Linked DNA regions of Homo sapiens. The protein of the gene in region 1 binds, or shares a complex with, the protein of each later gene. Each region holds a gene or a part of one and is shown in the gene's direction. Other genes may lie near its edges.

Region 1 (7,854 bases):
TGGTGGGCCATGGCTCTGCCGCCTCTTTGTGGTAACCCCTGGCACCACCAGGCGTGCCGTGGAGAAGTGCAGCTTCCCCTTCAAGAATGAAACACTTTTATTTCCCCATCTGACCCTGGAGGATCCACCAGCCCTGTCCTCCTTGCTGAGTGGGGCTTGGAGGGACCACCTCAGTCTTCACATTGTGGAGCTGGGGGAAGAAACCTGACAATATGACAGAGCACCCACTGCCCAAGACTCAGCCATAGAAGATGCCGCCCCACCTTCTACTTGGGTAGCTGGGCTGGGACGCTGGGACAGGACCCCGTCCTCCTTCATGACTCCCACTGCTGCCTCTCCTGGGCATGGCTGTTAGCTGTTCTGCCTTCTGGGTGAGCTGGCACTCTTCTCCCTGAGACCAAAGATTTGACCTGTCGGTCTTGATGTCAAGGTCCCCAAAGACCAGGTTAAGTGACGACACCTGTCTGTTCCTGCCCTGTTGCTTCCAGCCACTGTGATGTTTGAAATATGTGATAGTACCTGGTTGTGAAAAAAGACAATGAACTGCTAGTGACATTCCTCAATGACCTCTCCCAAACCTCCCATGATGCCTTACCCTTGCTGTCATGACAACCCTCTGGCTTCCTAAGACCCATCTGCCTATCGAAATATGTGCAAGTCAGTGAGACGAAGTATAGAGAACAGGTGGCCCAGATCCAGGGGACCCAACTTCTGGCCCCTTGGTCTGTCACCTCCTCGCTGTGTGATCTTGAGAAAGCTCCTTCCACTCACCCACCCCACTTCCCAGTCTGTTGGGATCAGAGGAACTTTGAGGTGTCTGCCGGCTAACATTGTGTCATTCCTGGAGTCCACAGTACACGTCCCCTGCCTCAACAGGCACAGCTCTCACAAAGCTCTTCAAGCATGGAAGTGGGAGTTGTGTTGTACTTCATGGCACTCTGATGCCTGCTGTCTCAGTGTTTGGTTATTATGCAAACAAGTAATGTTTGAAATATATAATAGCACTGGAGATTTTCTCCCTACTTTCTTTTACTCCTGTTCCTGAGAGGTGGTGGGAAACTCTCCAGCCATTTCTGCACCTTGTCCTTAAGAGTCATTCTCCTGGCTGGGCATGGTGGCTCACACCTGTAATCTCAGTACTGAGAGGCCAAGGTAGGCAGATCTCGAGGTCAGGAGTTCAAAACCAGCCTGGCCAACATGGTGAAACCCCATCTCTACTAAAAATATAAAAATTAGCCAGGCGTGGTGGCACGCACCTGTAATCCCAGCTACTCAGGAGGCTGAGGCAGGAGAATTGCTTGAACCCAGGAGGCAGAGGTTGCAGTGAACCGAGAGCCACTGCATTCCAGCCTGGGAGACAGAGCAAGACTCCGTCTTGGGGGAAAAAAAAAAAAAGGGGGTCATTTTCCCAGATTAGGGAGCCAGGTGTTCTTCCTCCTTAGAACTGTGGGTCTCAAGCCCTCCCATCCTGCCCCAGAGGGCAGAGAACACACAACACTCAGCTAGTGTCTGGTTACCAGCCTCAATTTTTCCGATGGCTTCAAGCTTTCTAGATTGCATGATTAACTGTGCTGCCTAACTAGAAATGATCAGAGCTGGGTGTGGTGGCTCACACCAGTAATCCCAGCACTTTGGGAGGCGGAAGCAGGAGAACTGCTTGAGGCCAGGAGTTCAAGACCAGCCTGGGCAACAAAGTGCAATGCCATTTCAACCAAAAACAAAACAAAACAAAATTGTGGCTGGGCGCGGTGGCTCACACCTGTAACCCCAGCACTTTGGGAGGCCGAGGTGGGCAGATCACAAGGTCAGGAGATCGAGACCATCCTGGCCAACGTGGTGAAACTCCGTTTCTACTAAAATACAAAAAATTAGCCAGGCATGGTGGCACGCACCTGTAGTCCCAGCTGCTCAGGAGGATGAGGCAGGGGAATCACTTGAACCCGGGAGGTGGAGGTTGCAGTGAGCCGAGATCGCACCACTGCACTCCAGCCTGGTGACAGAGTAAGGCTCCGTCTCAAAAAAACAAAAAAAACAGAAAAAAAGTTTTTAATTAGCTGGGCATAGTGTCATGGGCCCGTAATCCCAGCTACTTGGGAGTCCCAGGGAGGAAGATCGCTTGGCCCAACGGGTCGAGGTTGCAGTGACAGCTAGTATTGTGCCACTGCACTCCAGCCTGGGCAAGAGTTAGGTCCTGTCTCAAAAAAAAAATCAGAAATTTAGCTAGGAGCTTCAAATGACAGGACATTTCTATATACAATGGATTTCCTAATCGCAGGTCTGCTAACTGGCTGGATCGTAGTCTGTCTGTATCCCTGACCCTCTAAAATGAGGGGTAGTGAAGGGGTGGGTTGCCCCTCCACACCTGTGGGTGTTTCTCGTTAGGTGGAAGGAGAGACTTGGAAAAGAAAGAGACACAAAGTATAGAGAAAGAAAAAAGGGAGCCCAGGGGGCCGGCATTCAGCAGACGAGGATCCCGCCGGCCTCTGAGTTCCCTTAGTATTTATTCATCATTCTTGGGTGTTTCTCGGAGAGGGGGATGTGTCAGGGTCATAAGATAATAGTGGAGAGAAGGTCAGCAGATAAACACGTGAACAAAGGTCTCTGTGTCATAGACAAGGTAAAGAACTAAGTGCTGTGCTTTAGATATGCATACACATAAACATCTCAATGCCTTACAGAGCAGTATTGCTGCCCCCATGTCCCACCTCCAGCCCTAAGGCGGTTTTCCCCTAACTCAGTAGATGGAACATACAATCGGGTTTTACACCATTGCCCAGGGACGGGCAGGAGACAGATGCCTTCCTCTTGTTTCAACGGCAAAGAGGCGTTCCTTCTTCTTTCACTAATCCTTCTCAGCACAGACCCTTTACGGGTGTCACGCTGTGAGGGACGGTCAGGTCTTTCCCTTCCCACGAGGCCATATTTCAGACTATCACATGGGGAGAAACCTTGGACAATACCTGGCTTTCCTAGGCAGAGGTCCCTGTGGGCTTCCGCAGTGTTTGTGTCCCTCGGTACTTGAGATTAGGGAGTGGTGATGACTCTTAACGAGCATGCTGCCTTCAAGCATCTGTTTAACAAAGCACATCTTGCACCGCCCTTAATCCATTTAACCCTGAGTGGACACAGCACATGTTTCAGAGAGCAGGGGGTTGGGGGTGGGGTTACAGATTAACAGCATCTCAAGGCAGAAGAATTTTTCTCAGTACAGAACAAAATGGAGTCTCCTATGTCTACTTCTTTCTACACAGACACAGTAACAATCTGATCTCTCTTTTCCCCACAGGATAGGAGTCCAGGTAACTTGTTCCATGGCAGGCAGTAGTCTTTTTTTTTTTTTTTTTTTTTTTTGAGAAAGGTTCTCGCTATGCTACCCAGGCTGGTCTCATCTCAGGCTCATGCGATCCTCCTGCCTCTGCAGTGGCTGGGATAAGACACAACTGCCACCAGGCCCTGCCCCTAGGCAGTAGTCTTAATGCCTGATGGTGGGGGGTTGGGGAAGGAAGGGGTTGAGTATCAGGGTAAATGCTGCAGAGCTGTGTTAAGGACTTAGGCCCTGGAGTCAAATGCCTCTGCTCACATCCCACTCTGCAAGACTTTGGGCAACTTAAGCAGCAGCCTCTGTTTCCATCGCAGTGGCTCTTGCCTATAATCCCAGCACTTTGGGAGGCTGAGGCGGGAGGATCACTTGCGCCCAAGAGTTCGAGACCACCCCATCTCTACAAAAAAATCCAAAAAGTAATCTGCTTCCTCATGTGAATGTCGTTGTAAGGAGTGAGATAACACATAGAGTGCAATGAGCAAGTCCCAGCACAGAAGACTCATTTCATAAAATACGTGTTTATTATTACCATAGGCCTACAGTCCCCGGTATTCTTAACACATCTTGCCTGAGAAGTATCACACTCATGCCTATCAACCAGCTCACACATTTAATCAAAGGAATTTGGCAGCTGTAGGGTTGTCTTTTCATCCATATCGTCCCTGGAATTAACTGTCCTGCTATACCAGTCAGATTGAGCAGCATCTGTCAAGAGTTTCAGTCCCACTTGCAGAGGAAAGGCTCTCTGGCTTCGGTCCGTGGCTCTCCGTAGGTGCCGTGTCTGGACCCAGCCTACCTTCATCTCTGTTAGGCTTAGGGCTGTCTCCACACTGTGTCTTGTCCAATCACAAGACTTCAACGGAGCGGGCGGTCTGGCCTAGGCTCTTATGCGTGGGATGTCTGCAGGCCAACAATCCCAGTCGGGATTCGAAGCCGCGCGCAGTGCCCGGAATGACCCCTCCACATTGATGCCACTGTAGAGCCCGGAAGGAAAAGCAAGCGGCCTCGGCCCCGCACAGCCCAGGATTAAATGTTTGCGCCAGGGCCCCTCTGGCTACCTGGTGGTGGCCCCGAGCGGCCTCGGAGGCCGCGGCGTAGCTCCTGGGTGAAGGCGTCTCTAAATCGCTCAGCGCGGCGGCACAGGGAGCCCACGGGCCCAGCCGCGAGGTCCTGCAGGCGGCGGGCCGCGTCCTGGCCCCGCAGCTGGGCCTGCAGCAGTGCGAAGGCCGTGAGCTGCGCCGCACGTCGGATAGGCCGCGACTCTGACAGACGTTCCACCAGCTGCGGGCTGTGCAGCAGGGCGGCCAGCAGCCGCCGCAGCACCATCTTCTCCAAGCGCCCGGAACCCGACCTCGCCGCCCTCGTCTTCCGCCCCGCGGCGCCCGACCCGGACGTCTATGCCCCCGCGCAGCTTGATGACGACACGCCGCCCTCGGATTGGGTCCAATGAGATGCTCGCCTCCGCGCGTTTCCGCTTCCGCCATCGCGGACGCAGCCTCGTGCCGGGAGTCGCCGCATTGTGGTCCGCTTCTCTGCACTATGTCGGGTGGCCTCCTGAAGGCGCTGCGCAGCGACTCCTACGTGGAGCTGAGCCAGTACCGGGACCAGCACTTCCGGGTGAGGGAGGCCGGGCCGCGAGACGGGAAGGCCCTGGGCAAGAACGCTGAGAAACGGTTTGCTCTTGTCTCATTGTGTCGCCTCCCATTCAGCTGAAATCCGCAAACGCCAAGTGGGGCCCCGGTGCCTGCTGGCGAGGCAGGGAATGGGTGCTGGAAGGGCGCTTGGATATCACTGAAGCCACTTGCTCTGGAAGACGGGGAACTGGAGGCTCGCTTATCCCATTCGCTCGCAGCCGCTCCCTGTACCCCAGCCAGTGCCGAGAGGTTTGAGCGGTGGTGGTGGTGGCGGCTCCCGTTTCCACGGTTGTGCCTCCGCAGACGACTACGTAGCAAGGGGGAGGGGTGCCCTTCTCTCTCCCAGAGTAGGCAGAGGCGCCTTCCTGATGCAGATGCGGGGCTTTTTGCTTTGTTTTTTAAATCGGCGAAGCAGTGCCCTTCGGCGATTCGGGCCCCTTCTCTGGGAGGATGGTGTTACGGAAGCTGTACGCGGTGCGTGGGAGACACAAGTGGAGTCCTCACTCCGCCCTCGGGGAAGCTTCGGAGTGGGGAGGTGGACCCGCCAAGCTCGGCACTTTGAGGGTGTTCGGATGTAAAGATCGGAGAATTGCTGGATTTCAGAAGAGGGAAATTTTTAGTCCGGACTATATCACAGTATATTTTGTGGAAAAAGGGGAGGCAGCAGATATTCAAAGTAGACTTTTCAGTATCAGCGGAGGTAGGGATGGAATACGGTTGGGGGTTGGCGGGGCGGGACTCATTAACCCAATTATTTAGTAAACGTTTATCGAGTGCTGTCGCCAAATCCTTGTGCTAAACCCTAGAGGGAGAGGGAAGACAGTTTCTGCGCTCTGCGAGCTCATAATCCCCTGTAGTGAGGATTCAGAAAAGGGAAAAATCCCCTTGTGACTGGGAAAGGAAGGGGCGCATATAGCAGAGGGTAAGTGTGGAGAATGTGTGAAATGTGTTACTAGAGTAGGGAAAGGGAAATTTTGTTTGACGCTAAATTAGGGAAGCTCTTAGATTTATTTAGTCAAGGCTGGGAACGGTGGCTCACGCCTGTAATCCCAGCACTTTGGGAGGCTGAGGCGGGTGGATCACGAGGTTAGGAGTTCAAGACTAGCCTGGCCAAGATGGTGAAACCCCGTCTTACTAAAAATACAAAAATTAGGCGGGCGTGGTGGCAGGCGCTTGTAATCCCAGCTATTCGGGAGGCTGAGGCAGGAGAATCGCTTGAACCGGGGAGGTGGAGGTTGCTGTGAGATCGCGCCACTGCACTCCAGCCTGGGCAACAGAGCGATATTCCTTCTCAAAAAAAAAAAATTTATTCAGTTAATGTATTTTATTTTTTGAGACAGAGTCTCGCTTTATTGCCTAGGCTGAAGTGCAGTGGCGCAATCACGGCTCACGCAGCCTCAACCTCCTGAGCCTAAGTGATCCTACCCACCTCAGCCTCCTGAGAAGCTGGGACCACAGGCTCGCGCCACCACATCCAGCTAATTTTTTGTAGAGACAGGGTCTCCCTGTGTTGCTCAGGCCAGTCTCGAACTCTGGGACTCAAGCGATCCACCTGCCTGGGGCTTCCCAAAGTGCTGGGATGCCTAAGTGCCAGGCATGATTTGCACTTCTACCACTTTTAGTTACTACTTTAGACAGTTCCACATCCTGACCATTTTGAACTTAAAGCATCCTGTGAGATGAAAACTGGAACCTTCTGACTTTGTCTATTATTCATCTCCTCAGTCTAAACCTGTAGCTTTTTTTAGATGCTAATGCCATACTGTCATGTGGAATTTCTAGCATTCTGTGAATGGAATCCATATTAATATACTTTAAGCACTTACACCACAGTTATCTTAAACTGTAGGCTATTTATTTGGATCTTACTTACATGTGTGAGAAAAGTAGAAAAAGAAGATGCCTCCTTTCCATGTTCACAAATCAGTAACAGCAGTAAAATGAAAGGAATTTACTTTCTCTAATGTCTCACTCCAAAGTTCCGAAAACCTCTTTTTAACATACAATGACTATTGTCCTGTGGACTTTTTTTTTTTGAGATAGAGTTTCACTCTTGTTGTCCAGGCTCAAGTGCAGTGGTGCAATCTCAGCTCCCTGCAACCTCCACCTCCCAGGTTCAAGCGATTCTCCTGCTTCAGCCTCCCGAGTAGCTGGGATTACAGGCGCCCGCTGCTACCATGCCCAGCTAATTTTTGTATTTTTAGTAGAGACAGGGTTTCATTCACTATGTTAGCCAGGCTGGTCTCAAACTCTTGACCTCAGGCGATCCACTCGCCTCAGCCTCCCAAAGTGCTGGGATTACAGGCATGAGCCACCGCGCCTGACCCCGATGAGCCATTTTGGACCCAGGGCTTTGTCTGTCAGGTGTGTTGGATGAAGCCCAGTTATATGCTTAAGTCTCTGGCTTCATCCTGTCATCCCAATTTGGAAGCCCATTAAGAAAGTGAGCTCTGTTTTGTTTTTAGTGATCACTACATTTTCCCCTAAACTCAGAGAAAGATCTATGAGCACGTAAAGCATCAAGGTTGTGGCTTTCAACAGTCTCTAGGGGGTTATTAAAGAGGAACTCTCTCTCTCTCTGAAAACCCACTTATTTTTCACTACGAAGGATAAAAGGGCCCTTTGTCATATATTGGGTCAAGGTCCAGAGTCTACACTTGGGTTTAAAGGATGCACTGCTGAGGATATGGTGTGTGCAGGGAAAAGGGAAGCCGCTTGCGTGGCAGTCGGGCGTAGAAGTGACTTTGTTGTATGTGGTATAACTTTTGAGCCCTGTCTCTACTAAGAGTCTGGACTTCGCATAAGTGCTTCACAGAAGGTCGACATCCCCCTTTTTGGGCAAGGGATTTCTGGTAGGCTGGGATGAGAGAAGTTGATTTCCAAACCAGAATTAATGAA
Region 2 (7,571 bases), on another chromosome or scaffold:
CAAAAAGAGCTCCCCCTGGGTCTTGGAGCTGTTCCCTGTGAAAAGATAGTGCTCCAGGGGCACGGGGCGGGTTACAGTGCTAATCACATAGATCTGACGACGCTTCAGCCGCCTGAAGAAAGGAGAGGGAAGCAGGTCAGGGGTGGGAACGTGGGAAGGAACCCACATCCCCACCCCCTTCCCTACCCCTCCAACTTTACCCAGTCTTTTCTGAGACCCAGAATGGAAGGCTATCCCCCAACATCTCATCCCATTTCAACATGCAAAGTAATCTGGACCCAAAGGGGATCCCACAGCCACCAGGTGGGACATGTTCCCCAGCATCACCCCTAAGGCCTGACCGCTCTCCTTGCTGTGGTAGACTTAGTCCCCCACCCGAATCAAGGAGTACTGTAGCCCCCTTCACCCAGGCAACCCGGGACACACGTCTCACCCAATCCAGTCAGCAAACTCAAGGGCGTTGGGGACGGTGGCACTCAGAAGGATGATAGAAACGTGGTCAGGTAGCATGATAAGCACCTCCTCCCACACGACCCCACGCTGGGCACAGAGAGGGAAGGGAGGTCACATGAGGGCAGGGGCCGCCCTTCTGCCCATAAAGAGGCACAGGATTCCATATGGGGGTAAAGAAAGCAGTAAGGGGCCCTGAGTGTGTGGAATAAGGGAGACGCTCAACTGGTCCCAAAGGAGAGGACTGCCGGGTTCTGGGGAGCCCATGGCCCTTACCTCGACATCGTTGATATAGTGAACCTCATCAAAGATGACCCACTCCAGGTCCCGAATAACATCTGAGCCACTGTACAGCATGGAGCTGGGGAGAAGAGGCCAAGGATTGACTCCCCAGTGGCTCGTCTCCACCCCCTCCTCAGACAGCACACTCTCCACAACGGCCACATCTTCCCAGCCAAAACTCCCCTGTATTGAGTGTCCATCTCTCACCGAAGGATCTCTGTGGTCATGATGAGGCAGGAGGCCTCCGGATGCAGCTGTACATCCCCGGTGAGCAGCCCCACATCCCCGAATGTGTTTCGGAAGTCCCGGAACTTCTGGTTGCTCAGGGCCTTGATGGGCGAAGTGTAGATGGTGCTGGGAAGAGAGCATGAAGTTAGCCAGTCCCTCCGCAGACTCATGGCCCGCACTTCCTCTCCCACATGGAGCCCTCGTGGAAGCATGCCCCAGAAGCTCAGGTGCTCCTCTTCTTCACCCAAACTGCCCTTACATTCTCCTGCATGATATAACCCCAGAAAAATTCTGTCCCCAACCCCTTCCTAAACTAACCCAGGTCATTCTTCTAAACTTTCTCCCCACCATGTCTTTTCATTTCTCTCTGGGCTCTTGTCTCAGTCTTAGCCCTGAACCTCTCACTTAAAGGATGAGCTAGAGAGGTGGGGGAAGAGATGAGATTTTCAAAGGATGCAGGAGAAAATGGGGCTGGCTGGTGAAGGGGGAGGTTGGCAAAGGAACTCATACCGTGTCATGTGTTTCTGGGCCAGGGCAATGGCATATTCAGCCACAACTGTTTTTCCTGCAGATGTGTGAGCTGCGACAAAGACAGAGTCATGCCGTTCCAAGTGCAGGATGGCCTGTTTCTGAAACACATCTGGCTCAAATGCCCACTATGGGAGAGAGAAATAGACAGGAGCTGAAGAAAGGAGCGGGGCCTTGCTGCCTCCTGCTCATGGAGCACGCAGGGCGGGCGGATGAAGGCCGGAGCCAGCCGAGGCTGGGACTGAGTACCAAGACTGGCCTGGGATGGATCTGACCTCTGGCCAATAGAGGAGACAAGGGGTCGGCTGGGAGTGTGACCCAGAAAGAGGTAGAGGAGCGTGTGAAGATGGGGCCAAAGTACCTGGAAGGCTGGCTGGGGAATGAGGCGATAGAAATCACCAACAGGGGAGGTGGCGTCCACAGGGATGGCCCACTGCTCCTGAGATGGAGGCTCTGGGGCCTCTGGGGTGGATACAGCTGTGGACGCTTCCTGGAAGAGTCAGGGGTAGCAGTGATAAAGATACAACCAGAGGGCTCTCAATTAGCACTCCTCCCAAAAGATGTCCCTTTCTTCCCCTCAGACCCATCCTAGCCAGCCCACATCCTGGTGGCAAGGCTCTTTCTTGCCTCCACTACACAGAACCACCAACCTTCAACACTAGGTCTTCCAAGCTGCTTGCTCGGGCCAGGGGAGCACTGCAGGGAGAGGCTGAAACAGTGTCCCCTCTGGGACCTCCTGGCTGTCCCACTGCCTCATTCTCATCCTCGTCACCCCCACCCAAATCCAGAGGCTCCAACATACAGCTAAGGCTTAGTAGTCCAGGAGCTGGAGTTGGACAATCTGAGGAGCAAGCCAACAAGGTCAACCTTGTCATGTCCATCTCTGTTCCTTAGGAGAAGGACATGACTTCTCCTACACCCCACTCAAAAACTAAAACTAACCTTTTGGTGCAAAGTCCATGCCTTTCTTGAAACCAGGTGGAATAGTAAGAAGATCTGTAGGATAGGGACATGAAATCAGGTCACTGCACACTGGTGAACAAATTGTGTACATTATATAAACCTAAAAGATACCATTTACAGGACAGATGCTGTAGATAGGGATGTTTGCTATGACACTTTCCCAACAGATGACAGTAAAGGTTGTTGTAGAAATTTCCCAGCAGATGACAGTAAAGGTTGTTATGGACAGAATATCTTTTTCTAATTTTCTCAAAAACATGGGAGGGCTAGCAGTAGCCCAGTGATAGCCTGGGCTCTTCCTCCTCAAGGCTCAGACTCAGAGCCCCACCTTACCTTTCTCAAAGTCTATCTCCTCCTCAGCCTCCTCCCGTGTGTTCAGATCTGTTATGGTGGGTTCATCCATCCCCCCTGGGAAGAGACAGGACAGACAGGGATTCATGGGATGAGGGTAATACGAGATAGGTGGGGAACCCTTCCCTGGAGATTAAAGACACCCTCTTCTACCATCCCATCTCCACAAGAGTCACCTGGCCAGAAGGGATACTGAGTTGGATTTCCCCATAAGGACTGGGAGGCTGGCCCTGGAGGCCGGCGAAGAGACAAGGAGGTTGTAGCCGAGAGATTTGTGTTCTCCAGCAAGACCTAAGGCAAGAGATCAGAGCCCCAATGAGGCTGAGCTTGTCTCTGACCACCTCCCCTTCTCCCCAACTGTTTCTCATGACCCCTGACCTCCTACCTCTTTGTAACCCAGTATCTGGCCTGTGGTTGGGTGTCTTTGGGCCTGTAGGTCGGATGGGACTGGGGCTCCCAGGACAGCCAAAAGAGACCAGGGATCCGTCTTCCTCTGCCATTTTCTGGAGAGAAAAATAGTAACTTTTGGGTCTTCTTTCTTCCTCTGTCCCAGCTTCCTTCAGGAACCCATCACCCTAGTCTAAGCCCCTCCAGACTCCTCACCGGGCTGAGTGCTCCACACCATGCAGAGGCAGCCAGGCTGGGGATGACAGAAACAACTGTTCTGCTTCTTGCTGCAGATCTGGGGCACAAGGAGGGAGGCCATGGGGAAGCTGAAACAAGGGCAAGATGAGAGGCATTAGGTAAGGAAAGAGGATAAAATGCAGACAAAAGAGATGATGGGACTTGTGTTCAGATCAGAAATGGCAGATGTGTCAAACAGACTAGGACAATCAGGCTTGGCCAAAAACTACCTGCTACTGAATTACCTGGGGCAGATTTTGGATTTCAGAAACATGGAGGCTGGACCTAGGAATGTGCATTTTTAAAAAGCTCCCTGGCTAATCATGAAGCACACTGAAATTGGAGACTCACTGATTTTAGAAAAAGGGGTCCCAGACCTAAGGATGAAAGGTTGGAGGCTCAAAGCCTATCATCTCAGTCACCAAGTGCCCTGGTGCTTGGATACAGAAGGGAGCTCCACGGAGAAATGCCACATTTGAAAGAGCAGCTCTCAAAGCAAAAATATCCCCAGCCCTTTCTGCTCTGTCCTCACATGTACTGCAGGTACACTGGGCTGTAATCTGTCCAGCACCCCTTCAGGCTGGGATGGACAGGAGTACAGGCACAGATGAACAAGGTTAAGCTAGATCCTACTGTGAGGAGGGTGAAGGAGGTTTGGACTCAATGCGGGTCAAAGGTTAGGGTCAAAAGTCACTCACGCTACTCTCTGGAGCTCCAGGCAAGTTCAGCAGCTCCCAGTGCCCCGTGCATCCGAGCTCCACGGCCCGAAGGGGTAGGTCCAGGGGATCTGGAGGGGGTAGCACTACGGGGAAAGGTCAAAAGTCAGGGGTCAAAGTTCATTCCATATCGGCTACTCCGTTCCATTTCCCTCCCCTCCCCCTCACCAAGTCGCTCTGTCTCCATCATCCTGGAGCCACAGCAGCTGCCTGGCAGCCCGGAAGTGCGGCAAGTAGTCGCTGCGAAGTAAGCCCCGCCCCGGAACGGGCGGAAGTAGAGGCAACTTCCGGTACAGCCCCGCCGAGAGCGTGAACTATCGCTGCGGAGGGGCAGACCTGGACCGGTGGAAGGCCGGGCGGAAGTGCGCGCCTGGGGCCGCCTTGGTTACCGCGTTTTCCGCTCCTCGCTACGTCATCGTTGTGAGCCCGCTATCAGCGGCCAGCGCGGGCGCGGCCGGAGACCGTGGGGCCCCCGGTTGCCGCCCCCTCGGGTAAGGCCCTCTGCTTCTCACTCTTCGGCCCTTTTTCTCATAGCCGTTTCTCTGTTCTTCCTCTTTGCGTTGCTCTGCGGGCGCTACGCTGGCTCCACCGCCTTCTCTGCCGTTCAAACCCCGCGGTTGTCCTTACCCTAGCGAGGGTAGGGGGGTCGGGTGCCATCGTCTTTCCGACGGAGTGGATATTTGTCCCTCCTTGAACCACATGGTACCTAAAGGTGCTGGTGTCTGTGATCCCTGGAGACAGGAGGGAATGCTGGATGATCCCGACCAGCGGGAGCTTGGACAGCAGCCTGGTTTAAGCAAGGGGTAGGGAAAGCCAAAGACAAGAGTAGGCAGACCTGAAGGGGTGGGGTTGGGTACAGTGTGGACGGCGTGTGAACCCCGGGTGGTAACAGTGGAGAAAGATGTCTTGGGCCCTGCCCCTGAACTAGGAGCCACCATGTTGGTGATACCCCCCGGACTGAGCGAGGAAGAGGAGGCTCTGCAGAAGAAATTCAACAAGCTCAAGAAAAAGGTGAGGGACTGTGTGTGGACATGGCCTAACCTTTCACAGACTCTGCACTCTGAGAAGATATGGGGTGAGTGTGAGCGAATGGGGAAGTTTTTCTGGCCCATACCTAGAGACATATCACCTCACAGTGTAGCTTCGAGAGGTGGGCTTTCCCAAGCCTTGGTGTGGACCTTCTGTCTTTTCTATGCAATTTGCCATGGATTGTCTTCCTTTCCCATGGCTTTTAGTACCGCTTAAGAGCTGATGATCCCCAAGTTTGTTTTTTCCAGTTCTATCCAGTGTTATACTGAAAAACTTCAGATACTCAGTGTTGAAGCTATCATCTTTCTATTCTTGATCTTCCAAATAAGATTGACTACACCAATTCTGCCACATGTTTGGACTCAAAACTCTGACTTCCCCACTATTTGCATAGTCAAACCTTTGCCAAGTCTTATTGTTTCTTCTTTTGAAGTAATTTTTCCTGTTTATTCTTCACTGTGCATTCCCCCGAGCAGGGCTTTATTGACATTCATGTGGGCCATTGTAATGGTCTCTCAACAAATTTCTCAGTCTTTTTTTTTGAACAGACTTCTTCACTCCTGTTCAAATGATCCATTGAAAACACAAAATTCTGCTCCCTCTGTTTCTCAAAAACCATAAATGGCTTCACATTGTCTATAAAAAAGCCTCAAAACCTTAGTTTGGCAGCCTTGTCTAGTAAAGTAGAACTATTCACTACTTCCAAAAGATGCATTCCCAAAGCCTTCTTATCTCTGCATCTTTGCCACCCTGTTTTCTTTTTCTAAAATACCCTTCTCCTCTCTGTGTTGTGCAGAGATACGGGAGAGGGCCTAGTTTAATAGCCATTAAACATCAGAAAATCTTACTAGCTTTCAGCTATGAATAATCTGCACCTCTTATAATTGTATTGCTAACTCAATGTATTTTATTTCTCAGACTGTAAGCTTCTTGAGGGTAGGAACAATGCATTAGCCTCCTGGATATCCCTGTTACGAAGTCATGGCTGGGCCTCATTCAATATGCAGGAAATAGATGGATGAAGCTTCCAGGAAAGGCACATAAACTTATACTTACTTGCAGCTTATATCCTAGGATTCTAGTCCATGATTGAGTTATTTGTCTTCAACTTCAAAAATGTAACACTCTGGAAAACCTCTGGGTTCCGTGGTTTGGTTAGATTAGGAATTTCCAGCATCATACATGATCTAGGGGACCAGAGGCAAGAGGCAGAGCACATCAGTGTACCACTCTGAGGGCATCAAGAAAGACGGTCCCTGGAGTGATGTGCCCAGGGGCCTTAGGAGAGGAACCGGCTAGGGGCTGGCCCTCACTTACCTCTCTCTTCTCACCCTTGTTCCCAGAAAAAGGCATTGCTGGCTCTGAAGAAGCAAAGTAGCAGCAGCACAACCAGCCAAGGTGGTGTCAAACGCTGTGAGTGACAGGGGAAATGGGGATGGACTGGAAGTGGGCAGCATGGAGCTGACCTTCATCATGGCTTGGCCAACATAATGCCTCTTCCCCTTGTCTCTCCAGCACTATCAGAGCAGCCTGTCATGGACACAGCCACAGCAACAGAGCAGGCAAAGCAGCTGGTGAAGTCAGGAGCCATCAGTGCCATCAAGGCTGAGACCAAGAACTCAGGCTTCAAGCGTTCTCGAACCCTTGAGGGGAAGTTAAAGGTGAGCACAAGCAGAAAGATTGTTTAAAGGGCATCCCTCCAAGTTGGAATGTAGATGGGTTTGGGGAAAAATATGCATACTCAAGCACTGGCAAATTGCTGTACCATTCTGAGTTTCACCTCTCATGTATAAAATGAAAAAACTAGACGACTCCTGAATTCTCCATTTTACAAATTCTGTGGTTCTAATCCACCTTGGATTGGAGCTCTTGGAATATGTTGCCCTAAGGGATGGAAAGGGCTGAAAATGTTATCAGGTTCAAGAGAGGTTCAAATAAACTGAATACATAATATATCGAGTCACTTATAAAAAATACCAGCTGGGCGTGGTGGCTCATGCCTGTAATCCCAGCACTTTGGGAGGCTGAGGTGGGCAGATCACTTGAGATTAGGAGTTTAAGACCAACCTGGCCAACATGGTAAAACCCCGTCTCTACTAAAAATACAAAAATCAGCAGGGTGTGAGGCCGGGCGCGGTGGCTCACACCTGTAATCCCAGCACTTTGGGAGGCCGAGGCAGGCGGATCACGAGGTCAGGAGATCGAGACCATCCTGGCTAACAAGGTGAAACCCCATCTCTACTAAAAATACAAAAATTAGCCGGGCGTGGTGGCGGGCGCCTGTAGTCCCAGCTACTTGGGAGGCTGAGGCAGGAGAATTGCTTGAACCCAGGAGGCGGAGCTTGCAGTGAGTCGAGATTGTGCCACTGCACTCCAGCCTGGGTGACAGCGAGACTCCGT
Region 3 (7,018 bases), on another chromosome or scaffold:
TTTATGCCTTCCTCCAGATGTTCTTAATAGCCTCTTAACTGATCTTTTTGCATCTAGATTCTCTGCTTTTCACTTTGTGTTCTACAGTGGCACCAGACTGGTCTTTCTATAACTAGGCTCTGCACATGTTGGTTACTGGTTAAAAAAACCTTAGTTCCTTCCCATTGTCTACAGTGAGTGGTCTTAAAAGCCTGGTGCACAAGATGATTCCTTGGGTTTCAGGAAGTGAATATTAAGAACTCTTATTTATCTTAAGTGGAAATGAAATTAAACCTTACTAATAATACATAGATTAATGGTGATCCAGTGTATATCATAAATACATATGTATGTGTTGAAGATATGTGATCAAATTCTTTTTTACTGAGTACACAATCAAAAAAGTTTGGACACCCATCAGGCTATAGGATTAAAGTCCAGACTCTTTAGCCTGACCCTTTATGGTTTCCCCAGTCTGTTTCTCTATTCTTGTCTCCCATATGCTCCCCAGCAATATCAAAATAACTTGCAGATCCCTAAACACACCTTGTTTTTGAACCTCTATGCCTAGACTGCCCTCCTTGCTCACTACTTGAGGCTGTTGCTATCCTTTATGACCTAGCCTAATTGTTACCTCCTTTGTGATGCTTTCCCCAACTCCCTTTGTCATTGTTCCTAAAAAATGCTTAATTTGCCTTTTAGTGTGGGAGTCATTCCTTTGTATTGAGATTGTGCTTGTTCCACTAGAATGGGTCCCCTAACAGTGACTTTTAGTAGTGTTTAGCAATAGCACACTAAGCACACCCAATAAATATGTGTTCTGTAATTTCCATTTCTGTAATTCAGTGAAAATTACAGCCAAACAGAAAAGGAGATTATAGGTTGAAGTAGCTAGAATATTTTACAATCTGGATTCTTGATGTAGTATAGCATAGAAACGTATGAACTCACAGATTACTGTCCTTTATATAGTCTTTGTTACAACTTCTCAATTCTGCCATTGTAGCACAAAAGCAACCATAGACAATATGTAACTGAATGAGCGTGGCTATTCCACTAAGTTTACTTATGGGCACTGAAACTTGAATTTCATGTAATTTGTATATGTCATAAAATACTCTTGATTTTTTTTTCACGCATTTAAAAATGTAAAAACCATTTTTAGTTCCCAGCTATGCAAAAAACAGGTAGTAGGCTAGATTCAGCCCTTAGGCTATAGTTTTTTAGACCAATAGTTTAGCCTATACAAGATTGCTTATTTTGTAGTTATTATAAAGAACATTTAGGTTTAATAGCAGAAATTGTTTGCCCCAACAGGTCCGTTTTTTATCTGATCTTGTGAATTGTCATGTGATTGCCGCCCCATCAATGGTTGCTATGTTTGAAAATTTTGTAAGCGTAACTCAGGAAGAAGATGTACCTCAGGTAAGAGAACCCCTCATGCTGAATCTTGAGGGGTTCTTGAGGGGTTACTGAATCCTGGTACTTCCATATAGTACCAGGAATTTTTCGCTGATAACCCATTAGCAATAAAGAAAAAAATAACAGCAGACTATCACACTTTAAGTTCTTACTATCTAAAAATTAAGCTGACTGGCACACTGGTGGGTTCTCATAATATCTGTATGTTGATTTAAATGATGCTGTCTAGTAAGATTAGAACTAATATATCTAGAAATGCTCTGTATAAACCAGATGTCTTATTTAAGTCCTATTAAATAGCTTCCATAGGATTTCATTCAAGAATAAATAAAATATGAATGAATATAATTAAAGCATATTTTAAACTTAACTTTTTAAAAATCCTTTAGGTGCGACGAGATTGGTATGTGTATGCATTTCTGTCATCTTTGCCCTGGGTTGGAAAGGAGTTGTACGAAAAGAAAGATGCAGAGATGGACCGCATCTTTGCCAACACTGAAAGCTATCTTAAGTAAGGGCACAGCTCATAGTACTCTTTGTTGCTTAGGTAAAGGATATCTTATATCAGTGATACCATTTGAGTTTCTCAAAAATAAGCTGTAGAGTTCCTGAAGGTATTTTCTAGGTAATCCTGTTCTCCTGCTGTTTTAACTCACTGAGACCTCAAAGTAGTCAGATATGGTTTGCTTACTTTTGCCAGTGCAAAGGACAGTTGGCAATATAGCTTCTTTTAAGCTGCTTTTATATGTTTGTTTATAAAAGACATAAAACACCCTAGTGCAATAGTTCCTCAAATATTAGTGTGGATAAGAATTACCTGTGGTACTTAAAATACTCAGACCCCAACCCCCAGACCTGATAAATTATACAATTTGAGAGAGAGGTTTGGACATCTGTATTATTAACACATTTCACAAGTGGAGAACCACTGTCCTAGCACATACAGTATATTTAGTTCATGTAAATTAATCTTAAATCAAGCTCTTAAAACAGTGGTCCTTAACCCTCCATCCAGCCAGTACTTCTTAAGTAATATGACACATTTCAATTAAAATAGTCACATGTCTTCCCATTACTCATCTCTCCTAAGCCAATGTAAAAGCTTGGTTTATATTGTTAGATACAATAATAATAAATAGGTCTTTTTAGTAAATTTATGCTTAACTATCCAGCAACATGGTAATGGTTATGTGGCCCTTAGGTTTTTACAGATTGATTTTGTTGTTAAGTTTCATTTTCTCTTTTTTAAGTGCTTTTTTTGGATAACTGTTAATAGCTACTTAGTTGGTTATTAAGTAAAGTTAAAAGAAGCTTAAAAAATAAGAATCTTTTGGCCGGGCGCAGTGGCTCACGCCTGTAATCCCAGCACTTTAGGAGGCCAAGGCAGGTGGATCACCCGAGGTCAGGAGTTTGAGACCAGCCTGGCCAACATGGTGAAAACCCATCTCTACTAAAAAATACAAAAATTAGCCGAGCGTGGTGGTGGGTGCCTGTAATCCCAGCTACTCGGGAGGCTGAGGCAGGAGAATTGCTTGAACCCAGGAGACGGAGGTTGCAGTGAGCCGACATGGTGCCGCCACTGCACTCCAGCCTGGGCAACAGAGTGAGACTCCGTCTCAAAAAAAAAAAAAAAAAAAAAAAGAATCGTGTGTGTGTGTATACATATCCTTTCTCTTTTTTATTCAAATGATAGCCCAATATACACACTGTTCTTCACTTGGCTTTTTTTTTTTTTCTTACTATAACTTGGATTTGTTGCATAAAAATACTTAACTCTACTTCATTCTTTTTAACAGTTGTAGGGTATTTCACTTTTTAATGTACCATGATTTCCGTAGTCTCCTGTTGGTGGACGTTTAGGTTATTTTCAATCTTTTGCTCTTATAAACAATGTTTCAGTGAATATCTTTGTGTATATGTTTTTATGTACATGTGCAAATATATTTATGGGGGATATAAATTTTTAGAAATGGCATTGCCGAGTTGAGGGTTCTAAACAATTTTGATAGATTTAGTCAAATTACCTTCCAAAGAGATTATACTTTCCCAAAGAGATTATATCAGTTAACCTCTTTGTCAACAATGTTTGAGACTGAATCTTGACCTGCATCTTGATGATACACAGTACATTATCAAAACAGTTGATATCTGCCACTCCAGTAGGTAAAATGTTATTTCATTGCTTTAATTTGCATTTTAATAACTGTGAGGGTGACTGAGCATCTCTTGTTTTTAAAAGCCTAAATGTAGATTTTCATTTTTATCTTTAGAAGACGCCAAAAGACTCATGTACCCATGTTACAGGTATGGACTGCTGATAAACCACATCCACAAGAAGAGGTAAATGGATTTCAGTCCCTTGTGATACAAACACAGTCAGCTCTTGAATAGATTCTTATCTCTGTAAGATACTCAGACCATTCCATTTTACCCTTTGACTGTGTTTCTACATTTCATGATAGTTCCTTCTCATAGCTCAAGGTGTATGGTAGGTCTTTAATAGATGATAGAATGTAATTGAAATATTCCCTTGTTCTTTGGAATGCCAGCTATTACAGAGTTGACATATATTTATTTAAATGCTTAATTTGAAAAATGTCAAAACAGACAGTTCCAAACAGGTAGACTTTGTAAGTAAAATAAAAACAAAAACTTAGCACCTTTTTTTGTACCATCTTACAAGTTAGCTTACTTTTGTATCCTGTATTTTAAAGGGTAGTGATTTTTTCATTTTGTCTAGTCAAAATGTTAATTATATTAATGATTAAAAATTAATCTGTCTTTAGTATTTAGATTGCCTGTGGGCCCAGATTCAGAAATTGAAAAAGGATCGCTGGCAGGAACGGCACATCCTAAGACCTTATCTTGCCTTTGACAGCATCCTGTGTGAAGCACTGCAGCACAATCTGCCTCCTTTTACACCACCTCCTCACACTGAAGATTCAGTGTACCCAATGCCAAGGGTCATCTTCAGAATGTTTGATTACACAGATGATCCCGAGGTAAGTGACCGACTAAAAGTCCTAGATATTGACCTGTGTTGCATTGTGCTTGTGGGTTAATCCCGCTTGAATTATGCCTGTGGTATGTTTTAATTTTGAGTTGTTTTTATCTAAGAAGGTCAGTAGCAATGAAGTTAACTTTTTAATTCAGTGAATGATATCACCTCATTATGCAAGAAATTATATTTGGCATGTGTAAATAGATTACAGAGACGTGCACAGTTTGCAGGCTAAGAGTGTGGGTTTTGGGTTTTTAGAGCTACGTTGGTTTGTGTTTTAATCTTGGTTTAGCCAAATACTAGCTGTGTTAATTTGGGAAGGTTATTTACCTCCCTGTGCTTTCATTTCCTGAAGGTAATAATAATAGTATACATCTCATAATAGTAGTATATATCTCATGTTATGAGGATTAAATTATTCACATGTAAAATGCATAGAACAAGAACAGTGTCTGTCACATGATGAATGCTCAGTCATTCTGGCAATTTTTCTTTCTTATTTTTTTCTTTTCGAAATGGGGTCTTACTTTGTTGCCCAGGCTGCAGGTGAGATCTAAGCTCACTGCAACCTCTGCCTCCTGTGCTCAAGCGATCCTTCCACTTCAGCCTCCTGAGTAGCTGGGACCACAGGCATGTGTCACCTAGCCTGGCAAATTTTTTGTAGAGTTGAGATTTCGCCATGTTGCCCTGGTTGGTCTCAAACTCCTGGGCTCAAGCAATTCGTCCGCTTCGTTTTCCCAAAGTGTTGGGCTTACAGGCATGAGCCACTGCACCTGTCCATAATTATACTTAATAAGGTTATTTCTCAGTAAAAGTACCTAGTTTTAGGTATGGTCCCTCTCTAGGCAACACAGCCTGTCTTGTGATTATTCATATTGTATGATTATTTGAAAACAAATGTTGGAAGTATTTTTAATTAAAAAATTCCAAAGATTAGTCTAAGCTGACTTTATCATTTTTAATATACATGTTCTTTATTTCAAAGTCAAGTTTCCTGGCAGCCATTGTACTGTTATAATTGTATATTGTACAATTAAGAAAATTTATAATTTTCATTGTGGGTACTATCCTGTGTATTGTAAGATGCTCAGCGGTGTCCCTGATCTCTACCCTCTAAATGTCAATAGCACTCTCCCTGCCTCAGTTTTGACAACCAAAAATATCTCCAGAGAGTGCAATATGTCCCCTCAAGAGCAAAATTGCCCCCAGTTGAAAACTATTGCCATAAAAATTAATATTACCACCTAAGTCAAATTTGAGTTTCTTCTATTGTCTCTTTTCTGTTCTATGGTAAAGTGCTAATGACCAGTAGGAATTTAGTATATATGTAATCTATTTTGGAATAAAAATTTCTCAGATAATCAGTTACATATACAAAATTATCAGCTTGCTGCCGTCTTTGCTATATTCCATATGTAACCAAATACTTTAGTCAAAATTATGTAATGATCTACTTAGATATGTCTAACTGAAAATCTGGTTTACATTTAAGACTGCTAATGTTTGTGGTCGGGTATTTTTTTTTTTTTGTGCAGGGGAAACTAGAATGGGACCTCAAAATTTGTTTCTCCTGAATTTGTATTTAATTGGTATCACCTCTGTAAGGTGCATATCCATCCCTTGCTAGAAGAGTATAAATATATAAAATACATATTACTCCCAAAACGAACAGGATTTTGTTTCTGTTCTGGCCTTTTACAAGTTGTTTATTAAAAAACATTAGAAATTGTAAAAAAAAGATTAGAATCATCCAAAAGTCATTATTAAAGGTTTATTTTGTGTGTTTTGAACCTGTTTGCTATGAATATACTTAAGAATAAAATAATGCCATGTAGGGAATATGTTTTGAGCTTAGACAGTATATTATGGGCATTTTTCAATTCATGCATGACTTTTTATGGCTATGTGGTGTTTGAATAGAATTTTCTCTCTGCATAGTTATTAATGGAAATAATTCACTCTCGGTTTAAAAAATAAACTCTGTAAGACTTGTATTATCCAAAATTATTTAGTTTCATATAATAATTGGTGTGTAAAGTAGGCAGTGGTTGTATGGTTAGGTATGAGATGTGGTAGAAAAAACACTACAGCTGATACTCTGGGGTATAAGTGAACATGACAATGGAATTTCCTGAAATATAGAGCTTTAACACTTCAGAACTTTTATCCCCATCACCCAGTTTAGTGCTTGGAACATAATAGTCTCTCAAATATTTGTTGAATAAGTAAAAGAAATCTGTTTTCTAGGCCTGTAGTGTACACATTTGGTTTTCTTTCCAGGGTCCTGTCATGCCAGGGAGTCATTCAGTGGAAAGATTTGTAATAGAAGAGAATCTTCACTGCATCATTAAGTCCCACTGGAAGGAAAGGAAGACTTGGTAAGATTCTTTTCATGGTACTTTTAGAAGGGAGAGAAGCAGCAATTTTGATAATTCAGTAAGAGCAAAATATATGTTGAGAGTGTAAGAAAATTTTATCCTCCTGACTCCCTGTCTTGCTAAAATCAATTTCTAAAAACACTTGCTTTACTTTCTCAAGGCTCTTCACCCTTGTATAGTACTTTTCGAGGTGCTTTATAGTAATAAGCGTATGATGCCAGTGTGTTTGGTGTGGATA

What was found. Proteins that work in one complex are often made in the same cells at the same time.
Region 2: the proteins of NCBP2 (region 1) and NELFE are in contact, whole or in part, in a crystal structure (PDB 5OOB), measured with the Homo sapiens proteins. Residues at the interface, in NP_031388.2 of Homo sapiens: Phe49, Tyr50, Thr51, Thr52, Glu53, Gln55, Lys68, Ile69, Ile70, Met71, Leu73, Lys77, Lys78, Thr79, Ala80, Asp107, Glu121, Gln124; in NP_002895.3 of Homo sapiens: Lys361, Arg362, Gln364, Ile365, Val366, Tyr367, Asp369, Tyr372.
Region 3: the proteins of NCBP2 (region 1) and NCBP1 are in contact, whole or in part, in a crystal structure (PDB 5OOB), measured with the Homo sapiens proteins. Residues at the interface, in NP_031388.2 of Homo sapiens: Gly4 (codon at 4,871), Leu5 (codon at 4,874), Leu6 (codon at 4,877), Lys7 (codon at 4,880), Leu9 (codon at 4,886), Arg10 (codon at 4,889), Ser11 (codon at 4,892), Asp12 (codon at 4,895), Ser13 (codon at 4,898), Tyr14 (codon at 4,901), Glu53, Glu54, Gln55, Tyr57, Glu58, Leu59, Lys62, Ser63, Asp65, Lys67, Ile69, Tyr89, Asn96, Arg99, Tyr100, Asn102, Gly103, Thr104, Arg105, Leu106; in NP_002477.1 of Homo sapiens: Glu32, Cys36, Leu71, Thr74, Val75, Arg77, Leu78, Leu79, Ser324 (codon at 6,755), His325 (codon at 6,758), Trp326 (codon at 6,761), Lys327 (codon at 6,764), Glu328 (codon at 6,767), Arg329 (codon at 6,770), Lys330 (codon at 6,773), Ile368, Val370, Met371, Thr374, Glu378, Asn415, His419, Ser422, Asn423, Gln425, Lys455, Arg458, Leu459, Ser460, Tyr461.

The regions. Positions count from the first base shown.
Region 1 is NC_000003.12:196,939,511-196,947,364, reverse strand, and holds the start of NCBP2 (nuclear cap-binding protein subunit 2), read left to right. Parts: upstream 1-4,836; 5' UTR 4,837-4,861; coding exon 4,862-4,939; exon of another isoform or gene 4,940-5,406; coding exon of another isoform or gene 5,407-5,430; intron 5,431-6,222; exon of another isoform or gene 6,223-6,391; intron 6,392-7,237; exon of another isoform or gene 7,238-7,488; intron 7,489-7,854. Other genes in the region: PIGZ (GPI alpha-1,2-mannosyltransferase 4), read left to right, coding at 1-208; protein NCBP2AS2, read right to left, coding at 4,349-4,648. UniProt on the Homo sapiens protein: Component of the cap-binding complex (CBC), which binds co-transcriptionally to the 5' cap of pre-mRNAs and is involved in various processes such as pre-mRNA splicing, translation regulation, nonsense-mediated mRNA decay, RNA-mediated gene silencing (RNAi) by microRNAs (miRNAs) and mRNA export.
Region 2 is NC_000006.12:31,955,954-31,963,524, reverse strand, and holds the start of NELFE (negative elongation factor E), read left to right. Parts: upstream 1-4,553; 5' UTR 4,554-4,633; exon of another isoform or gene 4,634-4,945; intron 4,946-5,043; exon of another isoform or gene 5,044-5,070; 5' UTR 5,071-5,078; coding exon 5,079-5,153; exon of another isoform or gene 5,154-5,217; intron 5,218-6,514; coding exon 6,515-6,584; exon of another isoform or gene 6,585-6,686; coding exon 6,687-6,832; intron 6,833-7,571. Other genes in the region: SKIC2 (superkiller complex protein 2), read right to left, coding at 1-112, 434-540, 727-811, 940-1,086, 1,471-1,616, 1,850-1,978, 2,139-2,329, 2,431-2,484 and 6 more. UniProt on the Homo sapiens protein: Essential component of the NELF complex, a complex that negatively regulates the elongation of transcription by RNA polymerase II.
Region 3 is NC_000009.12:97,643,821-97,650,838, forward strand, and holds part of NCBP1 (nuclear cap-binding protein subunit 1), read left to right. Parts: intron 1-1,296; coding exon 1,297-1,404; intron 1,405-1,790; coding exon 1,791-1,912; intron 1,913-3,671; coding exon 3,672-3,741; intron 3,742-4,187; coding exon 4,188-4,403; intron 4,404-6,682; coding exon 6,683-6,780; intron 6,781-7,018. UniProt on the Homo sapiens protein: Component of the cap-binding complex (CBC), which binds cotranscriptionally to the 5'-cap of pre-mRNAs and is involved in various processes such as pre-mRNA splicing, translation regulation, nonsense-mediated mRNA decay, RNA-mediated gene silencing (RNAi) by microRNAs (miRNAs) and mRNA export.